Linked DNA regions of Homo sapiens. The protein of the gene in region 1 binds, or shares a complex with, the protein of each later gene. Each region holds a gene or a part of one and is shown in the gene's direction. Other genes may lie near its edges. The genes, in order: SAMHD1, CCNA2 and DCAF1.

What was found.
Region 2: the proteins of SAMHD1 (region 1) and CCNA2 are in contact, whole or in part, in a cryo-EM structure (PDB 9HIW), measured with the Homo sapiens proteins. Residues at the interface, in NP_056289.2 of Homo sapiens: Lys615, Ser616, Arg617, Val618, Gln619, Leu620, Phe621, Lys622; in NP_001228.2 of Homo sapiens: Met210, Ile213, Leu214, Trp217, Glu220, Val221, Glu224, Arg250, Leu253, Gln254, Tyr280, Ile281, Thr282, Asp283, Asp284, Thr285.
Region 3: the proteins of SAMHD1 (region 1) and DCAF1 are in contact, whole or in part, in a crystal structure (PDB 4CC9), measured with the Homo sapiens proteins. Residues at the interface, in NP_056289.2 of Homo sapiens: Ser616, Arg617, Val618, Gln619, Lys622; in NP_001336097.1 of Homo sapiens: Asn1090, Glu1091, Asp1092, Thr1114, Gln1116, Asn1132.

What each region holds. Positions count from the first base shown.
Region 1 is NC_000020.11:36,912,412-36,923,065, reverse strand, and holds part of SAMHD1 (deoxynucleoside triphosphate triphosphohydrolase SAMHD1), read left to right. Parts: intron 1-3,546; coding exon 3,547-3,702; intron 3,703-6,016; coding exon 6,017-6,117; intron 6,118-6,235; coding exon 6,236-6,344; intron 6,345-10,513; coding exon 10,514-10,605; intron 10,606-10,654.
Region 2 is NC_000004.12:121,817,230-121,828,483, reverse strand, and holds the start of CCNA2 (cyclin-A2), read left to right. Parts: upstream 1-4,600; 5' UTR 4,601-4,855; coding exon 4,856-5,068; intron 5,069-5,837; coding exon 5,838-6,081; intron 6,082-7,392; coding exon 7,393-7,505; intron 7,506-7,718; coding exon 7,719-7,942; intron 7,943-8,904; coding exon 8,905-9,112; intron 9,113-9,570; coding exon 9,571-9,684; intron 9,685-10,306; coding exon 10,307-10,440; intron 10,441-10,797; coding exon 10,798-10,846; 3' UTR 10,847-11,254. Other genes in the region: BBSome complex member BBS7, read left to right, coding at 1-82, 215-338, 2,491-2,624. UniProt on the Homo sapiens protein: Cyclin which controls both the G1/S and the G2/M transition phases of the cell cycle. Functions through the formation of specific serine/threonine protein kinase holoenzyme complexes with the cyclin-dependent protein kinases CDK1 or CDK2.
Region 3 is NC_000003.12:51,495,851-51,506,394, reverse strand, and holds the start of DCAF1 (DDB1- and CUL4-associated factor 1), read left to right. Parts: upstream 1-6,379; 5' UTR 6,380-6,522; intron 6,523-7,063; exon of another isoform or gene 7,064-7,505; intron 7,506-9,614; 5' UTR 9,615-9,661; intron 9,662-10,544. UniProt on the Homo sapiens protein: Acts both as a substrate recognition component of E3 ubiquitin-protein ligase complexes and as an atypical serine/threonine-protein kinase, playing key roles in various processes such as cell cycle, telomerase regulation and histone modification.

The sequences.
Region 1 (10,654 bases):
TCACGCCACTGCACTCCAGCCTGGGTGACAGAGTGAGACACTGTGTCAAAAAATAAATAAAATACTCTCTCTTTATATATAGATATTTTTTTTCTGAATCATTAGAAAGTAAGTTTTGACCAGGCACAGTGGCTCATGGTTGTAATATCAACATTTTGGGAGGCCAAGGTGGGCAGATCGCTTGAGCCCAGGAGTTCAAGACCAGCCTGGACAACATGGTGAAACCCCGTCTCTACAAAAAAATTTAAAAATTAGCCAGGCATGGTGGGGTGGCAGGATTGCTTGAGCCTGGGAGGTCGAGGCTGCAATGAGCTGTGATCGTGCTACTGCACTCCAACGTAGGTAACAGAGTGAGAACTTGTCTCAAAAAAAGAAAGTTAGTTTTTAGACTGGACACAGTGGCTTACACCTGTAATCCCAACAGTTTGGGAGGCTAAGGCAGGAGGATAGCTTTGAGCCCAGGAGTTCAACACCAGCCTGGGCAACATAGTGAAACTGTCTCTACAAAATTATGAAAACATCAGCTGGTCATTGTGGTGCACACCTGTGGTCCTAGCTACTGAGAACGGGAGGATTACTTGAATCCAGGAGTTCAGGGATACACTGAGCTATGAATATGCCACTGAGCTCCAGCCTGGGTGATAGAGCAAGAGCCCTGTCTCTCAAAGAATGTAAATTGTTGAAATACTTTATTTCTAAATACTTCAGTGGGTATTTCCTAAAAACAACATTTTCTTATATAACCATAGTATAATTATCAAAATCAGTAAATTAATGTTGATGCAGTACTCTTATCTAATTCAGACTTTCAAATTTTACCAATTGTCCATATAGAAAAAGGGGAAAAAAACTTTTTTTCCCTGGTCCAGAATTACACATTGCATTTAGTTGCCATTTTTCTAGTTTCTTTTGATCTGGAGCAATTCTTCAGTCTTTATCGTTAGTGACTTTGTCATTTTTTTAAAGAGCAACTGAGCTATTTTGTGGAATGTTCCTCAATTTGAGTTTCAGTGTGATGTTTCCTCATGGATTCAAGCTATGCATTTTTGGTAGAATGCCACAAAAGTGATGTGTCCAGATCGGACGCAGTGGCTCACATCTGTAATCCCAGCACTTTGGGAGGCCAAGGTGGGTGGATTACCTGAGGTCAGAAGTTGGAGACCAGCCTGGCCAATATGGCGAAACCCTGTCTCTACTAAAAATATAAAAATTATCTGGGCATGGTGGTGGGCACCTGTAATCCCAGCTACTCGGGAGGCTGAGGCAGGAGAATCACCTGAACCTGGGAGGCGGAGGTTGCAGTGAGCCAAGATCACGCCATTTCACTCCAGCCTGGGCAACAAGAGGGAAAAAAAAAAAAAACAACCACAAAAAATTAGCTGGGTGTGGTGGCACGTGCCTACTTGGGAGGCTGAGGAAGGAGAATTGCTTGAGCCCGGGAGCCCAGGAGGTGACAGAGCTAGACTCTGTCTCCAAAAAAATCAGTGATGCATCCTTCATAGTGTATCATCTCAGGAGGCACATAAATCCTAGTTGAGCCAATACCAATGATATTAATTCTGCTTACTTGATTAAGGCATTGTCTGTCAAATCTCTCCATTATAAAGTTACTATTTTTCCTCTTTGTAATTACGTATATCTTGATTCAATTCGTTTTTTTTTTTTTTTTTTTTGAGACAGAGTCTCGCTGTGTCGCCCAGCCTGTAGTGCAGTGGCGTGATCTCGGCTCACTGCAACCTCCGCCTCCCGAGTTCAAGCGTTTCTCCTGCTTCAGCCTCCTGAGTAGCTGGGACTACAGGTGCATGCCACCACACCCAGCTAATTTTTATATTTTTAGTAGAGATGGGGTGTCACCATGTTGGCCAGTATGATCTTGATCTCCTGACCTCGTGATCTGCCTGCCTCCGCCTCCTAAAGTGCTGGGATTACAGGCGTGAGCTACTGTGCCCGGCCAATTTGTTTGTTGTTGTTGTTGTTTTTTGGAGACAAGGTCTTGCTCTGTTGCCCAGGCTGGAGTACAGGCATGAACATAGCTAACTGCAGCCTCAACCACCTGGGCTCAAGCAATCCTCCCACCTTGGTCTCCCAAGTAGCTGGGACCACAGGCGCATGTCACTATACCCAGCCAATCTTTTTATCTTTTTGTAGAGACAGGGTCTTGCTTTGTTGCCCAGGCTGCTCTCGAACTCCTGGGCTCAAGCAATCCTCCCACCTTTGCCTCTCAAAAAAATGCTAGGATTACAAATGTGAGCCACTGCACCCAGCCTGATTCTGTTTTTGTGGGTTTTTTTTTTTTTCTTTTGAAACAGAGTGTCACTTTGTTGCCCACCCAGGCTGGAGTGCAGGGCGATCTCGGCTCACTGCAACCTCCACCTCCTGGGTTCAAGTGATTGTCCTGCCTCAGTCCCCCAAGTAGCTGGGATTATAGGTGCACCCTACCATGCCTGGCTAATTTTTGTATTTTTTAGTAGACAGGAGGTTTTGCCATGTTGGCCAAACTTGTACTGTTGACCTCAAGTGATCCGCCCACCTCGGCCTCCCAAAACGCTGGGATTACAGGTGTGAGCCACCGCACCCAGGCCTGACAGCCCTGATTCTGTTTTTAAGAATAGTTTCTGGAGCAAGAATTGTTTCTGCGGGGGCGGGGAAAGAATAGTTATAGGGCAAGTTGCTTGTAATCCTGCCACTTTGGGAGGCTGAGACAGGAGGATTATTTGAGCCTAGGAGTTCAAGACCAACCTGGTCAACAAATCAAGACCCTGCCTCTACAAAAAAATCTAAAAATTAGCTGGGTAGGGTGGTGTGCACCTGTGGTTTCAGCTACTCGGGAGGCTGAAGTGGGAGGATCACTTGAGCCCAGGAGTTCAAGACTACAGTGACCCCATGATCACATCACTGGACTCTAGCCAGGGCAACAGAGCAATTCCCTGTCTCTTTTTTTAAAAAAATATAGTTATAGGATAATTCAGGTTTTGTTTTTCATCTTGAGTTAGTTTTTGGTAGGATCTAGGAAAGGGCAGATGTCTTCAGGAGTTCATTTGATCCTTTACATTGATTGTGAATGAGTGAGCAGAGAGAGATGAGCAAACAGGCCAATTGGAGATTTCAAGGGAGATCTTTGTTTTTACTGGCAAGTTTGCAGTTACCCCTTTTCACCACTAGATGGTAGTGCCTAACAGAGCTTATAACTGCACGTGTTCAAAGGCTGATGAAAAAATAAAATTCAATTTTATGATGATATTTATTAAAATGTAATTCTGTCTACATGATCTTATAATATTCATTTAGGAACTGTAAATGATTATATCATTAAATGCATTAAATATGTTTATGAAATAAGTTTTGTAAAAGGTTTGTAGACTACTAGTAAAATGAAAAATCTGACAGGTTTTTAAAAATGTTCCTAAGATTGTGGTTAGAAACTAGAGAATTAATATGCAATAGACCTTTATCTCAGAATTACTTGGAATTGAGGATAATTTTGTTAGTCAGGGCTCCCAATGGGCTAGAATCTTTAACACATCATATTGTGCTTACTTTTCCTAGCATGAACAAGGCTCAGTTATGATGTTTGAGCACCTTATTAATTCTAATGGAATTAAGCCTGTCATGGAACAATATGGTCTCATCCCTGAAGAAGATATTTGCTTTATAAAGGAACAAATTGTAGGACCACTTGAATCACCTGTCGAAGATTCATTGGTAAGTTTATGTACAGCTTAATTTTAACTGACTGGTGCTTTTCATCTAGCCTTTTCATGATTCCTTCTGAGTTATACATTTGGCTATTTTAGAGGCTAAATGATAAAATATGAGTTCTATGTTTCTACTGTTTAATGCAAAAAATAAAAGGCTTATATTTTTTTCTACCTCTCAACTGAATTAGTTAGAAGTTACTTCCCAAAAATATATATACAGAAATTCTTTTTAGAGACAGGGTCTTACTCTGTCACACAGGCTGGAGTGCAGTGGCACAATCTCAGCTCACTGCAACTTCCACCTCCCAGGCTCAAGCGATCCTCCTACCTCAGCCTCCTGAGTAGCTGGGACCACAAACGTGCACTACCATGCCCAGCTAATTTTTGTATTTTTTGTAGAGATGGGGTTTTGTCACGTTGCCCAGGTTAGTCTTGAAATCCTGAGCTCAAGTGATCTGCCCAGCTCTGCCTCTGAAAGTGCTGGGATTACAGGTGTGAGCCACTGTGCTTGGCATAAATTCTTTTCTTTTCTTTCTTTCTTTCTTTTTTTTTTTTTTTTTTTTTTTGAGATAGAGTCTTACTGTGTTGGCCAGGCTGGAGTACAGTGGCATGATCTCAGCGCAGTGCAACCTCTGTCTCCCAGGCTCAAGCAATTCTTCTGCTTCAGCCTCCTGAGTAGCTGGGATTACAGGTGTGTGCCACCACGCCCGGCAAATCTTTGTATTTTTAGTAGAGACGGGGTTTCACCATGTTGCCCAGGCTGGTCTCAAACTCCTGACCTCAGGTGATCCACCCGCCTCAGCCTCCCAAAGTGGTGGGATTACAAGCGTGAGCCGCCACCGCGCCCGGCCATAAATTCTTTTTTAGTGAATATATATGCAGTATTTTATTCATTAAAAAAAATTTTTTTTTTTGGAGATGTGGTCTCACTATGTTGCCTAAGCTGGTTTCGAACTCCTGGGCTCAAGTGATTCTCCCACTTTGGCCTCCCAAAATACTGGGATTGCAGGCGTGAGCCACCATACCTGGCCTGCAGTATTTTATATAGAAGCCTAAAGTAACTTTGTTTGGAATGTAAATGTGTATGTTTTATTTAACCATTAAAATGAACATATTTGGCCAGGCTCAGTGACTCATGCCTGTAATCCCAGCACTTTGGGAGGCCATGATGGGAGGATCACTTGAGCCCAGGAGTTTGAGATCAGCCTGGGTAATACTGAAACCCTGTCTCATGCCTGTAGTCTCAGATGCTTGGGAGGCTGAGGCAGGCTGCAGTGATCTGTGATTGTGCAACTGCACTCCAGCCTGGGCAACAGAGCTAGATCCTGTCTACAAATTTAAAAAAAAATCATATTTGAAATATTTATAGGAAGATCTACAAAAAAGTTGAACCAGTTCAATGGAAAATCTGTTTTGTTTCCTTTTTGATCTTTTGTATTTTTTTAATTAAAAATAAAGTTGGGAAATAATTTCCCCCTGAGATTTTTAGGGCTGTTTCCTCAAATATATACAAGTGTACTTACAGTATAAGATAAACAGATGAGTTTTGTAGCAAATATCCTATTTCCAAAAAAGTGGAGCTCAAAGAATACATTCAACAATGCATATTATTTAGACTAGGTATGTAGCTACTTTGAAAGATAGTACTGTTTTAATGCATGAATTCAAGCATTGTTAGTTTATTATTAGATTTTATATTATTTATTTATTTATTTTTGAGACGGTGTCTTGCTCTGTTGCCCAGGCTAGAGGGCAGTGGCACAACCTCAGGTCACTGCAACCTCCGCCTCCTGAGTTCAGGCGATTCTCCTGCCTCAGCCTCCTGAGTAGCTGGGAGTACAGGCACTTGCTACCATGCCCAACTAATTTTGTGTTTTTAGTAGAGACAGGGTTTCACCATCTTGGCCAAGCTGGTTTCAAACTCCAGACCTCGTGATCCGCCCTCCTCGGCCTCCCAAAGTGATGAGATTACAGGCGTGAGCCACCATGCCTGGCCTAGATTTTATATTTTTCAAAAACTTATAAACCAAGAAAACACAAAAGTTGTTGGTTTTGGGAAATGTAATAGAGTTCAGATCTTTTCAGTGGCACAAGAAAATGTGGTAACAATAGGGTATCATATACCTTAGCATTTCTTTTCCCTTTCTACTAGTTTTGAAATGAAGTGGAAGAAAGAAAGAATAGAACCTTCTAGTTTATCTCATATTCCCAGTCAGGTATCTGTTTATATTTTACAGATTAATAAAATTGCTTTGCTTTGTTTATAAATAGATTTGGTGCCTATCCTAAAACTTCCAGTGGGTTTTCTTGCCTTCCAGTGGCCATATAAAGGGCGTCCTGAAAACAAAAGCTTCCTTTATGAGATAGTATCTAATAAAAGAAATGGCATTGATGTGGACAAATGGGATTATTTTGCCAGGTATGCACTGAACACTTCTGAAAAGTTGGCTAAAATATTTATATAAATTTAGTATTACTATTTAAGGTACAGCTTCCTTGTTGAAAAATTTCATCTCTCTGTTTTGGAATCCTTCTAGGGACTGCCATCATCTTGGAATCCAAAATAATTTTGATTACAAGCGCTTTATTAAGTTTGCCCGTGTCTGTGAAGTAGACAATGAGTTGCGTATTTGTGCTAGAGATAAGGTAAGCTGTGCCAGAGGAGGCAATAAGAAGAATGTTGTTCCTGGTCTGAAATTTGGAAATAACCATTTAACAATTTGGAATAATTGGTAAATCGTCAGTCTCTTTACTTAATTCCTAGGATTTGTAAATATCTTTAGTCTCTTCCCTTCTACTGCATTATTAAATAATAATAAAATTAACATGGACATTTATTAAGTTTTGAGTTAGACACTGGTTTTGGGGTTTTTTTGTTTGGTTGGTTGCATTTTTTTTTTTTGAAATAGGATCTCACTGTGTTGCCCAGGCTAGTCTTGAACTCCTGAGCTCAAGTGATCCTCCCTCCTCAGCCTCCCAAGTAGCTGGGACTACAGGTGCACACTATCATGCCTGGCTTGTATGAGGCATCATTTTAAGTGCTTTGGACGGATCAACTCATTCCGTATAACCCTGTGAGATAGATACTATTATTCCATTCAACAGGCAAGCAAATTAAGGCACAGAGAAGGCATATAATTAACAAGTGGTAGAGTTGGAATTTCAACCCAAAAAGTTTGGTTCCAGAGTCTCTCTCTTTTTTTTTTTGAGACGGAGTCTCGCTCAGTCACCCAGGCTGGAGTGCAGTGGCACGATCTCGGCTCACTGCAAGCTCCGCCTCCCGGGTTCACGCCATTCTCCTGCCTCAGCCTCCCTAGTAGCTGGGACTACAGGCACTCGCCACTATGCCCGGCTAATTTTTTTTGTATTTTTAGTAGAGACAGGGTTTCACCGTGTTAGCCAGGATGGTCTCAATCTCTTGACCTCGTGATCTGCCCGCCTCGGCCTCCCAAAGTGCTGGGATTACAGGCATGAGCCAAGGTGCCTGGCCCAGAGTCTCATTTTTAATCACTGTATTAGTGTTGAAAAATTTTATACAGTTGACACCTGAACAAAATGGTGTTTAGGGGTGCTGTCCCCTCTCCTAGTTGAAAATCTGTATAAAACTTTTCTTTACCTTTTTTTTTTTTTGGAGATGGAGTCTCCCACTGTTGCCTAGGCTGGGGTACAGTGGCATGATCTCGGCTCACTGCAAGCTCTGCCTCCTGGCTTCAAGTGATTTTTCTGCCTCAGCCTTGTGACTAGCTAGGTTTACAGATGCATGCTACCACGCCCAGCTAATTTTTGTCTTTTTAGTGGAAACAGGGTTTCACCATGTTGGCCAGGCTGGTCTCGAACTCCTCACCTCAAGTGATCCACCCGCTTCAGCCTCCCAAAGTGCTGGCATTATAGGTGTAAGCCACTGTACCTGGCCTGCATATAACTTTTGACTTCCCAAAAACTTAACTAAATAGCCTTCTGTTGACCAGAAGCCTTATTGATAACCTTAATGGTCAGTTACACACATTTTGTATGTTTTTTGTTTTCTTTCCAGACAGGGTCTTGCTGTGTTACTCAGGCTGGAGTACAGTGGCACTATCATAGTGCATTGTAGCCTTGACTTCCTGGGCTCAACTGATCCTTCCTCCTCTGCCTCCCGAGTAGCTGGGACTACAGGCCTATGCTTGGCTAATTCTGAAATTTATTTTACAGAGGTGGAGTTTCACTGTGTTGCCCAGGCTGGTCTCAAACTCCTGGGCTCAAGCAACCCATCCACCTCAGTCTCCTAAAGTGCTATGATTATAGGTGTGAGCCACTGCATCCAGCCTATTTTGAATGTTACGTGTATCATATACCATATTCTTTTTTTTCTTTTTGGATACAGGATCTTACTCTGTCACCCAGATTGGAGTGTAGTGGTGCGATCTCAGATCACTGCAACCTCCACCTTCCCAGCTCAAGCAAATCTCCCACTTCAGCTTCCCGAATAGCTGGGACCACAGGCGCATGCCACTATACCGGGCTAATTTTTCTATTTTTTTTTTTGTAGAGACAGGGTTTCGCTATGTTCCCCAGGCTGGTCTCGAACTTCTGACCTCAAGCAACTTGTCCTCCTTGGCCTCCCAAAGTGCTGGTATTACATGTGTGAGCCGCCACGCCCCATCTACTGTATTCTTACAATAAAGTAAGCTAGAGAAAAGAAAATGTTATTAAGAAAATCATAAGGCAAGGCCAGGCGTGGTGGCTCACACCTGTATTCCCAGCACTTTGGGAGGCCAAGGTGGGCAGATCACCTGAGGTTAGAAGTTCGAGACCAGCCTGGCCAACCTGGGCAACATGGTGAAACTCCGTCTCTACTCAAAATACAAAAATTAGCTGGGCGCAGTGGCGAGTGCCTGTAATCCCAGCTACTTGGGAGGCTGAGGCAGAAAAATAACTTGAACCCGGGAGGCGGAGGCTGTGGTAAGCCGAGATTGCGCCACTGCACTCCAGCCTGGGCGGCAGAGCAAGGCTCCACCTCAAAAAAAAAAAGAAAGAAAGAAATTCATAAGGCAGAGAAAGTATATTTACTATTCATTAAGTGGAAGTAGATCATCATAAAGGTCTTCATCCTCATCGTCTTCACATTAAGTAGGCTCAGGAACAGGAGGGATTGGTCTTACTGTCTCAGGGGTGGCAGCGGGGCAAGGAAATCTGTATAAGTGAACTCTCACAGTTCAAACATGTGTTGTTAAAGGTCAACTGTAGTTAAACAGCTGAAATCACTAGGTCCCTGTTAGATGGCAGTCATGTAATCAAAAAGTAGTATAGTACTATACTATAGAAAGTCAAGAAGGGCTAGGCGTGGTGGTACATATCTGTAATCCCACTACTTCGCAAGGCTGAGGTGGGCAAATCTCTTGGGCTACCGAGTTTGAGACCATCCTGGCCAACATAGTGAAACCCTGTCTCTACTGAAAATACAAAAATTAGCCAGGCGTGGTAGCATACACCTGTAATCCCAGCTACTCAGGAGGATGAGGTACGAGAATCGGTTGAACCTGGGAGGTGGAGGTTGCAGTGAGCCAAGATTGTGTGCCACTGCATTCCAACCTGGGTGACAGAGCGAGACTGTCTAAAAAAAAAAAAAAAAGTCAAGAATGAAGAACATAAGAATAGTAATACCTATTTCCTAGAGTTATTGGGAGGATTAAAATATATATATATTTAATTTAAGATGCCTAAAACGGAAACTGTCACAGAGTTTGAGCATGTGATAGATTTTAGGGTTTTTTTTTTTTTTCTTTGAGTTGGAGTCTTGCTCTGTCACCCAGACTGGAGTGCAATGGCGTGATCTCCGCTCACTGCAACCTCCGCCTCCTGGGTTCAAGTGATTCTCCCACCTCAGCCTCCCTAGTAGCTGGGATTACAGGCACCCGCCATCATGCCCGGCTAATTTTTGTATTTTTGTAGAGACAGGGTTTCACCATGTTGGCCAGGCTGGTCTTGAACTCCTGACCTCAGGTGATCTGCCCACCTCGGCCTCCCAAAGTGCTGGGGTTACAGGCATGAGCCATCGCACCTGGCCTAGTTTATTAAGAATGAAAGTTCTTGGCCGGGCACAGTGGCTCACGCCTGTAATCCCAGCACTATGGGAGGCCGAGGCGGGCAGATCATGAGGTCAGGAGATTGAGACCATCCTGGCTAACACAGTGAAACTCCATCTCTACTAAAAATACAAAAAAATTAGCCGGGCTTGGTGGCAGGCGCCTGTAGTCCCAGCCACTCGGGAGACTGAGGCGGGAGAATGGCATGAACCCAGGAGGCAAAGCTTGCAGTGAGCCGAGATGGCGCCACTGCACTCCAGCCTGGGCAACAGAGCGAGACTCCATCTCAAAAAAAAAAAAAAAGGAAGAAAGAAAAGAAAAAGAATGAAAGTTCTTGCAATGAAGGACTTGTACTCCAGCCTGGGCAACAGATCGAGACTCCATCTCAAAAAAAAAAAAAAAAAAAAAAAAAACAAAGAATGAAAGTTAGCTGGGTACAGTGGCTGATGCATGTTATCCCAGCAAGGCTGAGGTAGGAAGATCACTTAAGACCAGCCTGAGCAACATAGCAAGACCTCATCTTTTAAAAAAAAAAAAAAAAAAAAAAAAAATGAAAGTTGCAAGCCAATAAATGGCTTTACTAATCTGCCTCCTCATTTTTTAGTGGGGTCAAAGGTGTTAATGAAGAAGCCCCGGTGCATAGCCCTCTTGTCTGCCACTATCCCTTTTCCTTCCTTGTCCTATATACTTGTCTCTAATAACGTTAACATAATCTGATCCTATTAATATTTACTTCATGTTTTCCTGCAGGAAGTTGGAAATCTGTATGACATGTTCCACACTCGCAACTCTTTACACCGTAGAGCTTATCAACACAAAGTTGGCAACATTATTGATACAATGTAAGAAACTTGATTGTCATTTCCCTATAAAATTTTCCTTGATACTTGG
Region 2 (11,254 bases), on another chromosome or scaffold:
ACACACTTTAAAGCTAATCCACCCAAAGCTGGAGTACCAGTTGCTTTTGGCTAAGAAAGTGCAGTTAATTGATGCTTTAAAAGTAAGTACATGTGTCGTCGTGGACTGGTGATTATTATTTGAAGTCATAGGATTTCTAAAATTATCAATACTTTAACATTACATTGGATTGAATTTTGAATATTAAGGTGCTTCTGTTTTTCATTTTAAATAGGAATTACAGATTCATGAGGGAAATACGAACTTTCTGATACCAGAATATCACTGTATTCTAGAAGAGGCAGATCACCTACAGGAAGAATACAAAAAGCAACCTGCACATCTTGAAAGACTCTATGGTTAGTGGACCATTCTAGAATACCTTGCCATATTTCTTTTCAACTGGCTATTTCCCAAGGATCATGTAAGAGAAGCTGGGCAGAAAGATAAAAAGATTACATCAGTCATGATTCATGAACCAGTCATGAATCAGTTGACAACAAATTTATTGCACAGAATATTTCTGTATTTTGTCAAGCTACTTTTAATATTTAATTCTTTTACTTGATAAAATGCAAGTATATTAAGAAATAAGTATACTGTGATGAATTAATCTATATATATGAACAAACCTGGTATAAAATGAATGTAATCTATGAACCTTTAGAGCTTAGACTGTATTTCACACAAATAATTGTCATGTTTTGTTGCTATTGTGAATTATAAAAATGCAGCATTTAAAATTTTTAAGGCAAAATTTAATAAAGGATATACAGTATTTGTGTTGTGTCAATTTATAGTTCAAAACTTTGGTGGTGAGAAGCTGAATGTTTCACAAATTGTATTGAAACAGAGTAAGGGAGGTGAGGAGAGGGAAAGAAGGAGTGAGGAAGGAAGAAACAGCTTAAGAAAAACAATTTTGTTAGCAATCTTTACATAAGACCTGTTGTATATAGCACACTATTTACACTGTCTTCATAATCAGGTGAGATATTTAATCCTTACAATAGCTCTGCAAGGTAGGTGGTATTATCTTCATTTTTCATATGCTTTAACTGAAATCTGAGTCTAAGGAATTTGTTGTCACCTAGCAAGTTAGTGATCATGCCTGCATTAGAATCTTCTCACCCCAAAATGCATGCCTTTTACACTATGCCAAGCCTTCCATAGTCACTGTAGAGCCAATTGGTATCACTAGTACACATGGATCCTTAAGCCTGCCTACTGAATTTTTTATTACATATCCAGAGACTTTCTCACAAACTGTAGCTATATTTAATGTCTTAACCTTTATTACATGACAAGCACATGATCTCTTTTATCCTTATAATAACTTATGAGATTGGCTGTACATAATATCACTGATTGCAAAATCCAGACAGCTTTGTAAACCAAAGTTTTTTTCATAAATAATTTGACAGCAAAATCTTGACTTAATCTGAATTAATTTAATAACAAAATCTGACTTAAACTGACATGAGGTTTTATATATATTTTTTGTTTGTTTGTTTGTTTGTTTTTTGAGACAGAGTCTCGCTTGGTCTCCCAGGCTGGAGTCAGTGGCGCGATCTCGGCTTACTGCAGCCTCTGCCCCCTGGGTTCAAGCAATTCTCCTGCCTCAGCCTCCTGAGTAGCTGCGATTACAGGTGTGCGCCACCATGCCCAGCTAATTTTTTTGTACTTTTAGTAGAGACAGGGTTTCACCATATTGGCCAGGCTGGTCTCCAACCCCTGACTTCGTGATCTGCCCACCTCAGCCTCCCAAAGTGCTGGGATTACAGGCATGAGCCACCGTGCCCAGCCCAAGGTTATATCTTTTTTATTCCACTTAGTGCAAATATTCATCCGTATATTTTGTGCCAGAAATAGTACTATGTTTTGCTATTGGATGCTGCTACTCAGTCCCCTTGGGGTTAATACCATAGTATATTCCTTTCATTATCTTCCTAAAATAGGAAAAATTCTGAAATACATCTTGCATCAAGCTTTTTGGATAAAGGATTGACAGCTTGAATTATTCCTGTTTTACATATGAGAAAACTCAAGGTGAAATGATTTGCCCAGATCTTTGAACCTAGGACTATTTGCCTTCAAGTCAAATCCCAAGAATGGTCAACATATAGGTGGAATATTTTAATTCAGATAAGCTGTTAAAAATAGAATCTGCCTAGACTATGTCAAAATGGTCAGCTTGGTGGAAAAAATATACCACTTGTTGTGATGTTATATATACTGATAGCAGTTCAAAAATGGCCAGTAGTTGATTGTCTGAATTAATAGCTTGTAATCAATTGTTAAGAGGGTTATTAGGCAGATGATTTATATCTTGAAACTTGTTTTAAAATCCCCCCAAAATGACTATTTTTAAAAACATGGCTTTTAGGTTTGTGTATGTTAAATCATGGAATTACAGGTGCTTAAAAATAGATTATCAAGCAATTACTTTAGTGAAATACTGTGTCATTAAATATAACTAATCACTGACAGGAAATTTATGTTTTTTCTTTAAAGGCATGATCACTGATCTTTTCATAGATAAATTTAAGTTTAAAGGCACCAATGTAAAAACTAAAGTACCCCTTCTATTGGAAATTCTGGACAGTTATGACCAAAATGCATTGATTTCATTCTTCGATGCAGCATGACATACAAATAAGGTAAAGTCCCAAAGAAGTGGTCTGTTTAAATGAAAAATGTTAAAAGAGAATTAGAAGTTAACTGTGTATGTACTTTAATTTCAAATGCTTTTTTATATCTAAAAATATTTGAGATATAATGGCTTTTTAAAGTAATGCTTCTATTTCTTTTGACAAATTGAACTTTCTAAAACTAAAAGAGTCTTTTTATTTTTAAAACACAAGTAGAATGATTTAAATAGGATTTTAATGAATTTTTGGCAAGTGGCTGTTTTAATTTTTAAATTGAGAAGTAATATGTGGAAAATTAAAATATATTCAAATGTATTACAAGGTACATAAACACATAAACATGTAGACCGCTTTATAGGCTTCAAAATGTATTTTTATATATTACCTTATTTGATCTTCACAACTGTTGTAAAATTTGTCAAATCATATAAGAAAACTGATTCTCAGTGAAATTTTGTGATTAAGAGGACATGCTAATATTTTGTAAAGCTGGGACCAGAACCCAAGTACTGGTACTTGCTTTGTGTCCTGGTTACTATGTATGTTGCCAGCTAGTGGAAATAACCTACCAATTGTTTTTTCTAGGAGATAGGATTGATTTGCAACTGATATTCCTTTTGCTTGGTAGTGTTTTATGACTCTGCTGCAGTTTGTGGAAATGCTGGACTTGGCTCAGTGCTATAAATTGTAGCCAGGAAATAAGAAGAGCTTACACAGAGTCGGGGGATCTTAATTAGACATGCTGTAACCAGTGGAGCTATTCAGCGTGCTTCAAGTGAAGAGTGCAGAAATAGTGATGCCATCTTAGATTTTCCTACACTAGTATCTTCTAGATCTCTTTTTATCATATATGACATTAAGGCTACAGAAGTTTTGTGCATTAATCTTAATTCATATTTATTAATTTCAAGGGAATATTGAAAGGTTTTAAAATGGCATACAGATAATGGAAAATAAGCTTTATGTTTCAAGAAGGGCAGACTCACGAATTTTTTAGAAAACAGTGCTTCTTAATGATATGCTATTATACTTATTAGTTATGTGCAAGCTTTGTATATTCTTATATTTATATATAAATATAAAAATTTGTTAAAGGCACGTATAGTTAAGAGAGTTTTATTTTAATAAGGTCATATTGTTTTTACTATGTTTAAAAAACTTTACTTCTGAAAGGAACATAATTATATCTAGGTCACTAGAACGTCATTGTGTTTTTTGTTGGTTGCCACAGCTTGGGGAAAAATAGAAAAAAATTAATGACTGTATTTGAATATTTTGTAATGCACTGCTATTTATTATATATATCAACAGTAGTTCAAGGTGCCATCTTAAATTAATTGCATCTTCATTAGGAAAAATAAAAAGCATAAAACACAATTTCTGGTTACTATGAATAAACGCCTAAATGTTAAGATGACATTACAGTCTTGACACTTGAGTACTGTATTACTATGTGAGCTCCGTGTTAAATAATTTATGCACATTATTTAATCCTAACAACCATATGACTGTAGTTATTAGTCCCTATTAACACATAAGAAAACGGAGAATCGGAGATACTGAAAAACGTGCCCCAGATTTTAGACCTTTGGAAAAAGTCACTTAAGCTAACTAGACGTCCCAGAGCTAAAGGCTGGGCAACCCAAATGATAGTCGCCAAAGTTTAATTCCGTTTAATTCCCTAAAAGGCTTAGAGTCAGCCTTCGGACAGCCTCGCTCACTAGGTGGCTCAGCTTAAAATAATCGGAAGCGTCGGGCCCTAAATCCTACCTCTCCCCGCCCCGCGCAGGCGTTTTCTCCCGCCCCAGCCAGTTTGTTTCTCCCTCCTGCCCCGCCCCTGCTCAGTTTCCTTTGGTTTACCCTTCACTCGCCTGCGACCCTGTCGCCTTGAATGACGTCAAGGCCGCGAGCGCTTTCATTGGTCCATTTCAATAGTCGCGGGATACTTGAACTGCAAGAACAGCCGCCGCTCCGGCGGGCTGCTCGCTGCATCTCTGGGCGTCTTTGGCTCGCCACGCTGGGCAGTGCCTGCCTGCGCCTTTCGCAACCTCCTCGGCCCTGCGTGGTCTCGAGCTGGGTGAGCGAGCGGGCGGGCTGGTAGGCTGGCCTGGGCTGCGACCGGCGGCTACGACTATTCTTTGGCCGGGTCGGTGCGAGTGGTCGGCTGGGCAGAGTGCACGCTGCTTGGCGCCGCAGGCTGATCCCGCCGTCCACTCCCGGGAGCAGTGATGTTGGGCAACTCTGCGCCGGGGCCTGCGACCCGCGAGGCGGGCTCGGCGCTGCTAGCATTGCAGCAGACGGCGCTCCAAGAGGACCAGGAGAATATCAACCCGGAAAAGGCAGCGCCCGTCCAACAACCGCGGACCCGGGCCGCGCTGGCGGTACTGAAGTCCGGGAACCCGCGGGGTCTAGCGCAGCAGCAGAGGCCGAAGACGAGACGGGTAAAGGGATGCGGGATATCTGCAGGAGGGTGGGTCGAGCAGGGTTTGGCATTGGCTTAGCAGGCAGAGAAGAGTGGCGAGAAGGCATGTCCTGGGCTTTTGGAAGGGGGCCAGGGTCTGGAGTGCAGTTGGTGCTGGTGTGTGGTTTGCCACAGTAGGAGTTCTCCCATATTAGCATCAGGACCCCGCCAACACTGTGTGTATGCTGCCGGTCTGCTCTCTATAGGGGGCATCTGCCTGTACATAATGGGGTCAAACCAAGCTCTAAAACGTGTAGTCTTCGCTCAGCTCCGCGCCTTTCTCTCCACTTTTAAACCCCAGGCACTGCTGTAGGACTCTGACCCCTATCCTCCTCACGCTTAAGAGATGACCTCTACTTTAGAAAAGCGTGTACAAAATACTTTGCTTTTGGCAAATTCCGCCATTTTAGCCGGATTTGCTCTGTTGCTCCACCCTCGGGCGACAGTGGTGAACCAACAATTTTTTTGCTGTCTTTCCTAAACTTGTCACGTATTGGCCTGTCACCCGACCCTTCTTGTGGCCCTGATAAGTTTTGCATAATTCCACCTAGTGTTATCTATTGATAGCCTTTGTGGGAATGCCTGTGACAAATGGGAACATCCCTTCTCTTTTGAATACTGAAACTCTTCTTTGTCCCAGAAAGTTTAATTCCTGATAGAGTATTTGGGAGAAAAAGCAAAGGCCAACACCCATAAGAGAAAGAATGCAAGACTAGTAGGCTCAAAGCCAGTTATTAATTTTTTTTTAGGTTGCACCCCTTAAGGATCTTCCTGTAAATGATGAGCATGTCACCGTTCCTCCTTGGAAAGCAAACAGTAAACAGCCTGCGTTCACCATTCATGTGGATGAAGCAGAAAAAGAAGCTCAGAAGAAGCCAGCTGAATCTCAAAAAATAGAGCGTGAAGATGCCCTGGCTTTTAATTCAGCCATTAGTTTACCTGGACCCAGAAAACCATTGGTCCCTCTTGATTATCCAATGGATGGTAGTTTTGGTAAGTTTTAAGGAAAATCTGTGTGGAATTACGGTAATTATAATTATTAGATGATATTAATGATTTGCATTTTAAGATGTCTTATGTAGTCATTTTGACTATAGTGAGTTAGGTTTAATGTAACAAGGCTTAGAAAGGATGTGACTTATCTCAGATCTCACAGCTAACACTTGACTTGGTGACATACAAAAAGATCCTTATCCAGTGCTCTTTCAGGTTCACTGCCAGTCACATCAATCTAATTATAATTAGATCTTAAATGCTTATTTTAATCTGATCCCATAAATGTGTTCTTGGTTGGGAGAATAGATTTCAGTTTTATTTAACTCACTTATATATCACTTAGTGCTATTTGAAGATGCAGTCTTAAATATTGTGATTACATAACGTCTCTTCCAGTTTTATAATTTTGTTTCTATAAAACCAGTCTGGATTAGCATCTGATACCAGAAAGTGACACTTTTCCTCCTACAAGTAAATAGTTGTACCATGGCTGTTTACTCTTACCCATGTATTAAAGTAGCTTCTGTAAACAGCTCTTTGCAGTTTGTACTATTTCTTTGCCCTAGGGATATTGAGTCACTGGACAGCTCACTAAATCCAATCTCATTTTAGTTTTAGTTGTATTGATTGTGAGGAAGGAGGGGTGAGCAGGAAAAGTCCTTTGGAAATAATAATTTGTGTGTTTTTATCAAAATTTTGCAGAAAATGTTTAATCTCAAGGTGATCTTTGAAGTGAAAGGAATAATGGATGATACTCTTTGCTTCAAAATAATTTATACTACAAAAAATAAATTATTTATAGTGTTAATCCATTTGCCCATAACAAACCTAATTTCTTAATAACACTTGTTAATAGAGGCCATTTAACTGATGCTAGCTATTGCCTACTTGTGCTTTATATATGTCAGACTCTGGGATCTGCAGTTTCTCTTGGGACAAATCTTAGATATTATCTCAAAACTTGGATTTTAAAAGTGTTCTGTCCTAACAGAACCACCATGCCATTTGCTCCTTTCTGTTGTGGAAGATGGATACTTTAAGATAATACCTGATTCTCATTTTCCTGTTAGGGGCCTACCAATATGTTTTTTTTTTTTTCCCTCATTAACTAAAATCATTCCAAAGTTCTATGTACAGAGATACTGAGACTAGGGTAAAATATTCTACATATTTTGTCATGAGAAGCTCTTTTTAGTTTGAAGAAATAAGTGCTTTGTTAATATGAGATTCCTTCCATGGCAGTCATTTTTAGCTATTAAACTAAATAGGCAAACAATTAATTTAATCATATCTTTTGAATTGTCCCAGAGTCACCACATACTATGGACATGTCAATTATATTAGAAGATGAAAAGCCAGTGAGTGTTAATGAAGTACCAGACTACCATGAGGATATTCACACATACCTTAGGGAAATGGAGGTAAAGGTTCTCTGAATCCAGTTTGTATAATGTATTTGTTAAATGTGGCTAAATGAAATTGAGAGGATAATGTTTAAATTTTTAAACTAATGAATTATTCTAATGCTACAGTTAAGTTTATAGCATGTAGCCTCTCGTAATTAATGGTAAAATAATCTAATTGCAGTTTTTACACTAGAATAATTTTAACACTATAAATAATTTTCTCAATAGGTTAAATGTAAACCTAAAGTGGGTTACATGAAGAAACAGCCAGACATCACTAACAGTATGAGAGCTATCCTCGTGGACTGGTTAGTTGAAGTAGGAGAAGAATATAAACTACAGAATGAGACCCTGCATTTGGCTGTGAACTACATTGATAGGTTCCTGTCTTCCATGTCAGTGCTGAGAGGAAAACTTCAGCTTGTGGGCACTGCTGCTATGCTGTTAGCCTCGTAAGTCTACCTTGGTTTGTTTAAAAGTGATCACGACCTTTTGTCTAGGGAAGAAATTGATTTTTTTAATGGTGACCTTTTAACATACACCAGGCAGAGTCAGTGACTACTTTAGGGATGGCAATGTGCTGGGGCTTAGGGCAGTGGAGGAGGATGAAACTGTTCTAATCTAGAACACTAATTTTCCCCCAACTGGATTCCTTGAACATGATATAGTACACTAGGTTACAAATTTTAAAACATTTTCCTTCCAATATTACTTTCTGGCATATAAGCAGTGTCTCTTTTATTAAGAAGTAAAGGCTGGGTGCGGTGGCTCGCGCCTGTAATCCCAGCACTTTGGGAGGCCGAGGTGGGCGGATCACTTGAGGTCAGGAGTTTGAGACCAGCCTGGCCATCATGGCGAAACCCTGTCTCTACTAAAAATACAAAAATTAGCTGGGCATGGTGATGCATGCCTGTAATCTCAGCTACTAGGGAGGCTGAGGCAAGAGAATCGCTTGAACCCAGGAGGTGGAAGTTGCAGCGAGCTAAGATTGCACCACTGCACTCTGGCCTGGGCGACAGAGCAAGACTCTTGTCTCAAAAAAAAAAAAAAAAAAGAAAGAAAAACTAAATTTAAAAATGAAAACATGAAACATGTTTTCCTAAGACTTGTATTTCCTAAATTTTCAGCTACTTGGTGAACTCTGGCATTGTTCCCATCTCGAGAAGTCTCATGCCTTTCATTTACTTCCTTTGACTGAACTGGGGAAAATATCTCAAAAGTCCTTTATTGATTTGGGCCTTTTAATTAGCAATTAGCTATCCAGTCTCTACTAGAAATGATGATCAAGTGTCTGGAAATGCAGTTGGTGTGGATTTTGGATTCATTCCATATTCTGCTAATGGGATTTCAGAACTGGGATAAGGAAGCTTGCTTCTCTTTTAGGACTGATTACTTAAAACTTTTTTCATTGTAGAAAGTTTGAAGAAATATACCCCCCAGAAGTAGCAGAGTTTGTGTACATTACAGATGATACCTACACCAAGAAACAAGTTCTGAGAATGGAGCATCTAGTTTTGAAAGTCCTTACTTTTGACTTAGCTGCTCCAACAGTAAATCAGTTTCTTACCCAATACTTTCTGCATCAGCAGCCTGCAAACTGCAAAGTTGAAAGTTTAGCAATGGTGAGTTAACTTTCATTTTGTTGAATGGTGATTCTTTGGTAATAATTAGGGGTAAGCCCTAATTCCTTTGTAAAGGAACCTAGTTCCTTTGTACAGCAGTGGTGAAGAGATTTAGTATTCAGAGGGAGATTAATGCTGCAGTATGGAAGAAAGCCTACTGCTGGCAAAAGATAATCTATATCAGGAAAGCACTAGAAGCAGAGGTCTAAGGATGACATCTTGGGGATGGGTAGTCAGAAGAGTTGTTTTTTAAAAGTTAATAAAGGAGGGAAAATACAGGATGAGGATGGAACAAAACACTAAAATGATTGATATGTTTAAAGATGAGGCTGTGAGATATTTTTTCTAGAGTTGCTACAGAGCCGTTATCAAAGGCAGGAAAAAATTAGGTTAGAAGGCAGAGGTTTGACATTTGAATTCTAAACGCTCTTGTGATCATAAAGTATTTTTTATTCCAGTTTTTGGGAGAATTAAGTTTGATAGATGCTGACCCATACCTCAAGTATTTGCCATCAGTTATTGCTGGAGCTGCCTTTCATTTAGCACTCTACACAGTCACGGGACAAAGCTGGGTATGTATTACGGTCTTCACACACCTATCTTGTGACTGAAATGCCTGTGCCAGATTAAATAATAATTGTCCTACAAAACTGAGGGTTGCCTAGATGTTCTTACTTGGAAAAACTTCAAATATATATAGTTGACCTTTGAAAAACACAGGTTTGAACTGTGTGAGTCCACTTACACATGGATTTTTTTCCAATCAAATGTGGACTGAAACTACAGTATTCAGGGGATTCACAACCCATATATATGGAAGGGTGACTGCAGGACTTGAATATGTACAGATTTGGGTATATTTGGGAAGGGTCCTGGAACCAATCCCTCATGTACACTGAGGGATGATTATATACTGTTTAAGGCATGTTACCTGTTGAACAGTGTTTGTTAGGTAGTAAGCTTAGTTGTAACTTGGATTGAAAGGTGAGCTTTTTTAAAAGCATCTGACCTGTTGCTGGCAGGGAAAGTAGTAGAAAATGGATCGAGGGATGGAATAATGGCCTGAGAAAACTAGTAGTTGGAAAAGTTAAAGATTAGTACTGGAATTTAACATAAGCTTAATGCCAACTATTTACTGTGTTTGGTGTGTTACTAAAAGCAAAACTCAGGGGTTCTCTATTCCCTTCTCTGTAGCCTGAATCATTAATACGAAAGACTGGATATACCCTGGAAAGTCTTAAGCCTTGTCTCATGGACCTTCACCAGACCTACCTCAAAGCACCACAGCATGCACAACAGTCAATAAGAGAAAAGTACAAAAATTCAAAGTAAGAATTAACTTGGATATTGAAGCTTACTTTTCTAGATTATGGTTCAGAGATCTTTGACATTTTAACCTTATTCATGAATCTGCCATAGCCTCCTTGAGAAGCTGTTCTCTAAATTGGTTATGTGTTTGAAGAAGGTTGTAGTTCATGCTTTCTGCCCTGGGTCTGGGGGAGAAGAGAGAAGGAAGGGGGCATGCATGTGTGTTTCAGGGACCAGACAGTGTTTCTAAAACCATCAAGTCGGTCAGACAGAAATAGCATTTTTTAGTTCCCAATACATGAGTACAAACATTATTCCATGATCTCCTTTACCCAGTGAGTGTTTACTAAAAATGCTTTTTTTTTCCCTACTTACAGGTATCATGGTGTTTCTCTCCTCAACCCACCAGAGACACTAAATCTGTAACAATGAAAGACTGCCTTTGTTTTCTAAGATGTAAATCACTCAAAGTATATGGTGTACAGTTTTTAACTTAGGTTTTAATTTTACAATCATTTCTGAATACAGAAGTTGTGGCCAAGTACAAATTATGGTATCTATTACTTTTTAAATGGTTTTAATTTGTATATCTTTTGTATATGTATCTGTCTTAGATATTTGGCTAATTTTAAGTGGTTTTGTTAAAGTATTAATGATGCCAGCTGTCAGGATAATAAATTGATTTGGAAAACTTTGCAAGTCAAATTTAACTTCTTCAGGATTTTGCTTAGTAAAGAAGTTTACTTGGTTTACTATATAATGGGAAGTGAAAAGCCTTCCTCTAAAATTAAAGTAGGTTTAGGAAAACAGACCCTCAAATTCTGACATTCATTT
Region 3 (10,544 bases), on another chromosome or scaffold:
CACTTTGGGAGGCCAAGGCAGGTGGATCGTTTGAGGTCAGGAGTTCGACACCAGCCTGGCCAACATGGTGAAACCCCGTCTCTACTAAAAATACAACAATTAGCCAGGTGTGGTGGCGGACACCCGTAATCCCAGCTACTCAGGAGGCTGAGGCATGAAAATCGCTTGAACCCGGGAGGTGCAGGTCTCAGTGAGCCAAGATCACACCACTGCACTCCAGCCTGGGCGACAAGAGTGAAACTCCATCTCAAAAAAAAAAAAAAAAAAAAGAAAGAAAAGAAAAAGAAAAAAGAAAAGAAACTGAATGGTCACAGAGGGATGGCACTGAGGAGAAGATCTGGTCCCTGGCTCAGGGGCCTTAACCTCCTTTTTCCAGGGATGACCCAGAACATCAGTGATCAGGACCCTTATATATATTCAAAAGGGGCAAGGGTGCTCCTCTGGCCCTAGGGTCTCAACGGATGGGATAATGGTCAAGGAATACAGGCTCAGGCCCCAACTGTTCTTATCTTTTGGCGATGACTGAGACATGAGAAACTGATCCCATCCTGAGTCTCCAATAACCCTCCTCACCCACTACAGCCTGAGACTGGTCCAGTGAGCCCCTCCAGACCCCACACCCCTCTCCAGAGCCTACAGGCTGCTTGTGAAGTCCCTTCTCCCCTAAAGTCATGCCCACTAGTCCCTGGTTGTCCTGGTCCCTGGTCCTGTGGGGAGGCAACCAGCTTTGTGACTTCACAAAAGGCTATCTTGTCAGAAGCCTGGACCTGCTGAAGCAGGAGCAGGGCAGAGGGGGCTCCCCTCAGGAACATCATGAGACTTTTCACACAGAGACATCGCCACCTCTAAGGGATGAAGAACTTCCCCACGGTAAGAGCCCATGACACCCTCTACACCTAGAAACTCCCGTCTTGATGACTTTGGCTCCCAGGCCTAACTGGGTACCCCAGGCTGTATCTGGCAACATCTCCAAGAGGGATACGCCCATGGTAGAAGTATTTACTTCGGTTGGTGTGGTGGGTCTCTGACCTTTGAATTTGTTCCATTCAACAAAGCCATTCTTCTGTAGGCCCTCTCTTTTTTTAATTTAAAAAATTATTATTAATTTTATTTTTATTATTATTATTTTTTGAGACAGAATCTCACTCTGTTGCCTAGGCTGGAGTGCAGTGGTGTGATCTCGGCTCACTGCAACCTACGCCTCCTGGGTTCAAGCAATTCTCATGCCTCAGGCTCCTGAGTAGCTGGGATTACAGGCATGCACCACCACACCTGGCTAATTTTTGTAATTTTTTAGTAGAGATGGGGTTTTGTCATGCTGGCCAGGCTGGTCTCGAACTCTCGACCTCAGGTGATCCACCTGCCTTGCCCCCCTAAAGTGCTGGGATTATGGCGTGAGCTACCACGCCTGGCTGTAAGAATTATTTTTATTTTTATTATTTTTTATACTGATAGAGTCTCACTATGTTGCCCAGGTTGGTCTTGAACTCCTAGGCTCAATGATCCACCTGCCTCAGCCTCCCTAAGTGCTGGAATTACAGGTGTGAGCCACCGTGCCAGGCCCAGGCCTTCTTGAAATGAAATAACTGATAGAGTGGTAAACTCTTTCTGACCTGAGTCATCATGAGGGTCTGCCCCAGCAGTCTCCAGAGTACCTTCAAATGGGTCAGGCCAGAGATCCCTGAATCCTGTAGAATGGTCTATTCCCTGAATCCTGTAGAATGGTCTTTCTAAAAATCCAGGAGTGGCCAAAGCATGGTGGTTCACACCTGTCATCCCAGCACTTTGAGAGGCCAAGGTGGGTGGATCACTTGAGGTCAGGAGTTCGAGACCAGCCTGGCCAACATGGTGAAACCCCATCTCTACTAAAAATACAAAGATTAGCCAGGTGTTGTGGCGGGCACCTGTAATCCCACCTACTCAGGAGGCTGAGGCAGGAGAATTACTTGAACCCAGGATGCAGAGGTTGCAGTGAGACGAGATTGCTTCACTGCACTCCAGCCTGGGGACAGAGTGAGGCTCCATCTCAAAATAAATAAATAAATAAAAGTTCAGGGGTTGCCAGGCGCGGTGGCTCACGCCTGTAATCCCAGCATTTTGGGAGGCAGAGGCGGGCGGATCACGGGGTCAGGAGATCGAGACCATCCTGGTTAACACAGTGAAACCCCGTCTTTACTAAAAATATAAAAAATTAGCCAGGCGTGGTGGCGGGCGCCTGTAGTCCCAGCTACTCAGGATGCTGAGGAAGGAGAATGGCCTGAACCAGGAGGCGGAGCTTGCGGTGAGCTGAGATTGTGCCACTGCACTCCAGCCTGGGCGACAGAGCCAGACTCCATCTCAAAAAAAAAAAAAAAAAAATGTTCAGGGGCTTCTGAGAGCTTGGAGCCAAGGCCAATACAGACTCTCTCCCCAATGTTGACTCCACTCTTCCTCCTGGAAGGATTTCCAACCCCAGGAACCTGAGGCAAAAGAGGCTAGGTATGCTTGCTTTTTTATCTCCTCTTTATCTGTGCCCACTGATCGATGTGGGCACTTAAGTTGTTGACTTTGTGGAATTTGTTTCTTTCTCTGTAAAGTGAGAGTAGTGGATGTGGATGTAATCAGACATAATTACACACCCTTTGGGAAATGATGTGGCGTTCCCTCTCCTCATTTTCTGGGGGTGGGGTACAGGGGCCACCAGGCAGGAGTAGGGTACCCAGTGAATGATTGGGATTTCCTCTTTGTCCAGGCTGGTGTTCCCAAAGCCTGGTAGCCTTAAGCCTCTAATTGGTGGCTCCTGCGACACTGCTGGACACTTGCAGTAGCAGTCTTGTCTAGCCAACAGGAGAGCAGGGGTGGATATGGGACAGCTGACCTCACTTCCCAGCCCCAGGGAAGGGAATTGCTGGAGGAAGCGCAGGAGTTGTGGGGTGGCACCAGGGTGAGGATGGGCTTGTGGGAGCACCTGGGTAAGCCTAGAAGGAGGTGCTGGGAGTGAAAAGCTCATAGAAGGATGGGAGCGGGAGAAGGAGGAGAATGAAGGAGAAGCTTGAAGCCTAGAGGACTTGGTGCTGTCCATCTTCCTACCCAGGGAGTGGGTGTGCTTGGAGGTGGGAGTAGGTAGAGCATGCTAATCTGTAGGCCTTGGTCCTGGGGCCAGGGCTGGGCTCTTCTTACCTTTTCTCTGCTGCTGGGCAGCCCCCAAAGCACTCCTCACTCTTTCAGATGGGGCTTCCTCTTTCTTGGGCACACCATGGAGCAGGGGGTGGAACAGGCAGAGCAAGGTGAGACGGAGTCCAGAGATGTCCTACCAAAGAGGTCAATAAATCTCCTCCCAATGGTGCAGGACCCATGTGCCACAACCAAGCCAGGTGTGTGGGCCTGGATTGTCTGTAGCTTTGTGTGTGCATATGCTTAGATGTGAAAGTATTTGTTGTGAGGACTGGGTGCCTAATGCACAGTGTGCATGCTTGTATATCTGGCACATGTGGGTATCTGTGAAATATGCCACCAAGCACACTTGGAATGCGTGTGCAGTTGGGAAAGCCTGGGTGCTCCCTCTTCTTTTTCCCAGAAGTGGGAAGGAGGTGTTTGAAGGTGTCTGCAGGTGTGTGGCTATGTGCATGTTGGGGAGGGGGAGGTGTTGGCAGGGGTAGAGGAGGCTGCAGGAGTTAAGAGTGCAGATTCCTGAGGGCGTGGCTGCTGGAGAGGCCTTGTTTGTCTCCTCCCCTGCTTCCCCTGCCTCCTAGGCCCTGGCTTCTCCAAAGCCCCTTCTTAATGCTTCTTGCTCCCATCACCAACCCAGGGCCCCAGGCTGGGTTTGTTTTTTAAAAAAATTAAAAAAAAATTTTTTTTTGAGACAGAGTCTCTCTCTGTCACCCAGGCTGGAGTGCAGTGGCACAATGACAGCTCACTGTAGCCTCAACCTCCCAAGCTCAAGCAATCCTCCCACCTCAGCCTCATAAATAGCTGGGACTACAGGCATGCACCACCACGTCCGGCAAATTTTTAAGATATTTTGTAGAGACAGTGGAGCAAGGGTGAGGGTGGGGGTGTCTCTCTATGTTGCCCAGGTTGGTCTTGAACTCCTGGGATCAAGAGATTCTCAGCCCCTCAAAGTGCTGGGATTACAGGCATGAGCCACAGTGCTCTGACCAGGTTGGGTTTCTGAAATGAAGCAGTGCCATCTGGTGGCAGACTGAGGCAGTGCCAGGAGCGCGTGAGCTAAGCCTTGAGCTCCCCTAAGGGCTCTGCCTCTTAGGACCCCAGCCAGCGGAGAAGTCACCACTGGGCCGGCTAGACCATAGTCAGAGGGGAGATATCCAAGGCTTAAATGTCCCATCCTCATACATTTTAGGTTCATGGCCCAGGGAGGCATGGCAGGAAAGTCACCTGAAGGAGTGCTGGAGGAATGGCATGTGGGTTCCATTCCTTGTTCTACCTCTCTGGGTCCAGATTTCTCATCTGTAAAGGTGATTAACCATATCTTCCCTGTGTGTGTGGCAGGGTAGTGAGGGTTAAATGAGAGAGTGTGGCTGGAACACTTGGCTCAGGGCCCAGCATGCTCTGAAGTTGAAAGAAATGGTACTGGCCATTACTGACAGAGGTAGAGTTCCAGAAGCACAGAGAAGGGACCTGTGTGTTGTGGCAGGAGAAAGAAGTGAAGAAAGGTGACATGTCTGTGGCGCTCCCAGCACATATTAGAGAATCTCTGCTTGGAGCAGTAGCTCCAAGTTACACATTTAAGAGAAGGAGGATGGTCCCTTTTCTGGAAAGAGGGAAATGGGATCTAGTGGGGAATGAAACCAAGGGACCCAGGATTCAGGATCCTTACTAGCTGTCGAGCCTGAGCATAGCAGCAGGCTTGCTGTGTCTTGTATTCATGTGACAGTATTGCCGTGAAGACTCATGGAGATGCACGGAGACTTGCTCAGCATTCCCGGAGAGATAATGAGCTGCATAAGGCCTTGAACGCTGGGTAGGATCTTGTCAGGTCGAGATTCTGCTCAACTGTGGGTCATGTTTATCTTCTATGCCCCACAAGAGGGACTGCTGGTCAGAGTAAGGAGTCCTCTGGTTCTGCTGTTAATTGGTTGTGTGATGCTGGGCAAGTCGCTCACTCCCTCTGGGCCTCATTTTTCCCAACAACATGAAGAAATTGAATTAAGTGACCTGTGAGGTCAGTCCTGCCTTAATCTATGAGCTTTTGATTTTTCACTTCTCTGCCTCACGTATAATAACCTGGCAATAAGTATCTATTGATTCTTACAGGCTAGGTCTTGAACAAAAAGACAGAGGCTGGGTGCAGTGGCTCATGCCTGTAATCCCAACACTTCGGGGGGCCGAGGCAGGAGAATCGTTTGAGCCTAGAAATTCAAGACCAACCTGGACAACACAGTGGGACTTCGTCTCTACAAAAATTTTTAAAAATTAGCCGGGTGTGGTGGTGCACACCTGTAGCCCCGGCTACTTGGGAGGCTGAGGTGAGAAGATAGCTTGAGCCCAGGAGGTTGATTGAGGCTGTAGTGAGCTGTGATCGCGCCACTGCACTCCAGCGTGGATGACAGAGCGAGACCCTGTCAAAAAAAAAAAAAAAAAAAGACAGAGAAAAAAGAGGCTGGGAGAACTCAGCCCAGGAGTTCGAGAACAGCCTGGCCAACACGGCAAAACCATGTCTCTACCAAACACGCACATACAAAACAGAAACAAAAATTGGCTGGGTGTGGTGGCATGCGCCTGTAGTCTCAGCTGGAGGCTGAGGTGGGAGGACTGTTTGAGCCCGGGAGGCGGAGGTCATAGTGAGCTGAGATCGTCACTGCACTCCAGCCTGGGCAACAGAGCGAGACTCTGTCTCAAAAAAACAAAACAAAACAAACAAAAAACAACCAGTGCCTTCTGATTTAATGAGTGCTGTGATTTCTGATATGTTTATGAGAAATATTTTCTTAGATCACGGTATGTTCTAGGTAAGATAAGGCAAATGGCCAAATAAAACAGAGGCTCTTTGCGCACACAGGTCAGAACAAGACACTGAAAAAGTATCAGGCGATTACAGTACTGTCTTAGAAGGATTGGCTCCCTCACTTTTCACTTCCGCCTTCCGAAGCAGCCAATGAGTACTCAGCAGTTCGCATTTATCCAAAAAAACTACAAATCCAGAAGTCAATGCGCCAGGCGAAGAGCTCATGCGTCAATTGGGACTGGTGGGCCCGCCCCTAGACGCGGAACTTCATTTCCCAGGCGTCCCCGGGGCTCTTCGATTTTTTTTTTTTTTTTTTTTTTTTTTTTTTTTTTTTCCCCGATCGTGCAGGCGTTCTCTTCCCGCCCCTTGCTCGCGGTCCTCGCGCCAAGTAGGCGCGAGCGCGCGCGCGCGGTGCACGTAGCGCGCGAGTGACGCATAATATGTGGGCCGCTGTGGAGCCGTGGTCGCGCTGTGTGTGTGTGTGAGTGGAGAGTGAGTGCGGGACCTGAGGCTGTGTGTGTGTGAACTGTGGCCACTGGCGGGGTCGGGGGGGGGCAGCGGCGGAGCCGCCTCGGACGGTGAGTGGGAAATGGAGGGAGGCGACTCTACGGGAGGGGCGCGAGGAAGCAGGTCGCGCGGCTGGCCGGGCGGCAGAGTGGGCGCCGGGCTTGGGGGAGGGGCGGCACCTGCTTGGGCCGCCGGCGAGGAGGGGGCGGGCCGGTCTGCCGGGAGGCTGGGCCCGGGGCCTGACAGGACTTTTCCTCCTCCTGATTCTTGTCCTGGGGGCGGGGCCTCCACGTTCTTCCTCCACTCCCCACGAGAAGCTTCCCGAGAGTAACTCTTCCGCCCGGAGTGGGGGGGCGGGGTGTGTCCGCCCCTACCTGGAGGAGGGGCGCATTTCATTTCCCTTGTTTTCTTTTTCCTTCCAATCCTCCTAGTCTCTGTTCCGTACGGGCTTGCGGGGCTCCATCTTCCGTACTATACGGCGGGCCCCTTCCCGGACTGTGTCTCCGCCTCCAGCTCCAGTCACCTGGGCGGGCTCTCCCGTCTCTCGGCCTCGTGCCACCTCTCCCTGCACCCGCCTGCCTCTTGGACCGTGCGACGGGGGCGGAGCTTTCCGGGCGCTCCTCCCATCCCCATGAAAGAGGGAAGGGTTGGAAAGAGAGGTGTGCGGGTCCCGCAGCCTGGAGTCAAACCTCAGAGTGCCCGCGAAGCTTCCCTGGAGTCTATTTCCGGGGGTTATAGTAGTTTTCAACTGGGGTGTCAGAAGCGTTTGCTTAACAACTTCACTTCTTAGACGGTTTTCTGTCTGGTTTCCTCTTACTGCGGTGGCAGCGCTCTGGTTTTCCATTTGTTGAGGAAATAGTTTTGGAGTGTTTGTATTTAGCTATTTTTGAGTCACAAATGACTCGTCCTTGGCCATGTCATGTTGGTCTTGGTTTTTCCTTACCCTGTTTTTTTGATGAAGCCTTTTAATTAGTTTACATGTCTTAATTTTTTATATTAGTAGCATCTTCCTGTTCAAAATGCATCGTTAATGTACAGAATGAGAGGTTAATTGGTAATATCATCCTGCATTTTCTTTTTCCAGCTTACTGGAGTTTACCTTTAATGTTTATGTAAATGTGTATATTTAGATTTTAGGATCTATTTAGTATTTTTCTTAATGATGTGACCATTTGGGTTTTCTATATAACATTTATTCATTACCCATTTTTGAGTGGGTATATATTTTTGGATGTTAAAGAGATAATAGAGAATTTGGGGAATGTAGGGAAATCATTTTGTACTTAGTATCTCTTGCGTAGTTGCTGAGTACAGTGTTTTACTGTTCTGCCTATTATACAGTTTTAAAATTTTTTATTTTTATTCATTTATTTTTTATAGAGACAGTGGTCTCAGTATGTTGCCCAGGCTGGTTTTGAACTCAAGTGATCCTCCCTGGTCAGCCTCCCGAAGTGTTGGAATTACAGACATGAGCCACTACACCTGGCCTGTTTTTTTAGATACAGGATCTTGCCCTGTAGCCTAGGCTGGAGTGCAGTGGTGTGATAACTCTTTTTTTTTTTTTTTTCTTTTTTCTTTTTTTTTGAGACAGCGTCTCATTCTGTTGCCCCAGCTAGAGTGCAGTGGCGCGATCTTGTCTCACTGCAACCTCCGCCTCCCAGGTTCAAGTGATTCTCCTGCCTCAGCCTCCGGAGTAGCTGGGACTACAGGCACGCGCCACCACGCCCGGATAATTTTTGTATTTATAGTAGAGATGGGGTTTCAGCATATTGGCCAGGCTGGTCTCAAGCTCTTGTCCTCGTGATCTGCCCACCTCGGCCTCCCAAAGTGCTGGGATTACAGATGTAAGCCACTGCGCTGGCTTTTTTTTTTTTTTTTTTTTTTTTTTTTTTTTGAGACAGAGTCTCACTGTGTTGCCCAGGCTGGAGTGCAGTGGCGCGATCTCAGCTCACTGCAAGCTCCGCCTCCCAGGTTCACGCCATTCTCGTGCCTCAGCCTCCCAAGTAGCTAGGATTACTGGTGCCTGCCACCACGCCCGGCTAATTTTTTGTATTTTTAGTAGACACAGGGTTTCACCGTGTTAGCCATGATGGTCTCGAGTGTCATCATAACTCATTGCAGCCTCCAACAACTCCTGGGCTCAAAGGAGCCTGCTGCCTCAGCCTCTTGAGTAACTAGGACCGCAGTCACAGGCTAACATGATTGGCTAATTTTTAAATATTTGTGTCGACTGTGTCTCAAAATGTTGCCCAGCTGACCTCAAGCAATCCTTCCGACTTGGCTTCCCAAATTGCTGGGATTACAGGCTTGAGCCACTGTGCCTGTCAATTTAAAAAAAATTTTTTTTTCTTTTTTTTGAGACGGAGTCTTGCTCTGTTGCCCAGGCTGGAGTGCAGTGGTGCAATCTCGGCTCACTGCAACCTCCACCTCCCGGGTTCAAGCGATTCTCCTGCCTCAGCCTCCCGAGTAACTGGGACTACAGGCGCGTGCCACCATGCCCAGCTAATTTTTGTATTTTTAGTAGACACGGGGTTTCACCATGTTGGTCCGGCTGGTCATGAACTCCTGACCTCGTGATCCACCGCCTAGGCCTCCCAAAGTGCTGGGATTACAGGCGTGAGCCACCGTGCCCGCCTATTTTTATTTTTTTTGAGACAGTCTTCCTGTGTCACCTAGCCTGGAGTGCAGTGGTGCGATCTTTGCCCACTGTAACCTCTGCCTCCCAGGTTCAAGCGATTCTCATGCCTCAGCCTCTGGAGTAGCTGGGATTACAGGTGTGTGCCCCCACGCCTGGCTAATTTTTTTATTTTTTGTAGAGATGGGGATTTGCCGCGTTGGCCAGGCTGGTCTTGAACTTTTGGCCTCAAGTAATCCACCCACTTCAGTCTCCCAAAGTGCTAGGATTACAGGCATGAGCCATAGTGCCTGGCAAACAGTTGTTAATATTATGCCATATTTTCTCTATTTGTGTGTGTGGTATCTATATATATATTTTGTGGAATCATTTGAAAATAAGTTGCAGGCCTGTCATCCCTAAATACCCTAGCAGATGCTTGTTAGGATAAGAAAATTTTACATAAGTATTTCTTGAGGCTTTATATTATCCCATCATGGGGACAATATTGTCATTTAACCCCGCACAACAACTGTTTCCATCTTGCAGATAAGGAAATTGAGATTTGGAGAAGTTAAATAACCAAGACTTCACAGGTATGTCAGCAGAGTTGGGATTTGAATCCTTGAAACCTTTTTTCTACCTAGTACTAGCTGGTCTTGGGGACCTCTCTGAGCTAGTTTCCTCATGTGTGAAAAAGGGTAGGATGGTTGTGAAAATTCAGAATAATGTAAGTATGGTAAATTACTTAGCTCAATGTCTGTCCCATACTAGATATTCACTAATTGGTAACTACCGTGTCACCATTGGACAGACCATCATTTCTTCATAGCACTTAAAGGAACTCACTTAAGAACTTGAGTAATGCACCCTTATTGTCTTGGGCATAACAAGGTGAAGATGACTGTTTTCTTTGCTCTTGTTGTGCAAGCTGGAGTGCAGTGGCGCGATCTCGGCTCACTGCAACCTCTGTCTCCTGGGTTCAAGCGATTCTGCTGCCTCAGCCTCCGGAGCAGCTGGGATTACAGGCGTGTGCCACCATGCCTGGCTAATTTTGTTGGTATTTTTAGTAGAGATGCGGTTTCACCATGTTGGCCAGGTGGTCTCGAACTCCTGACCTTGTGATCTGCCGGCCTCGGCCTCCCAAGGTGCTGGGATTACAGGCGTGAGCCACTGCGCCCGGCCTAATTTTGTATTTTTAGTAGAGACAGGGTTTCTCCATATTAGTCAGGCTGGTCTCGAACTCCCAACCTCAGGTGATCTGCCTGCCTTGGCCTCCTAAAGTGCTGAGATTACAGGTGTGAGCCACTGTGCCCGGCCTTTTTTTTTTTTCCTTGAGACAAGGTCTCGCACTTTTGCTCTGGCTGGAGTACAGTGGTGCAGTTATGGCTCACTGCAGCCTCCACCTCCTAGGCTCAAGCAGTTCTCTTGCTTCAGCCTCCCCAGGTAGCTGGGACTACAGGTTGCAGTGAGCCAAGA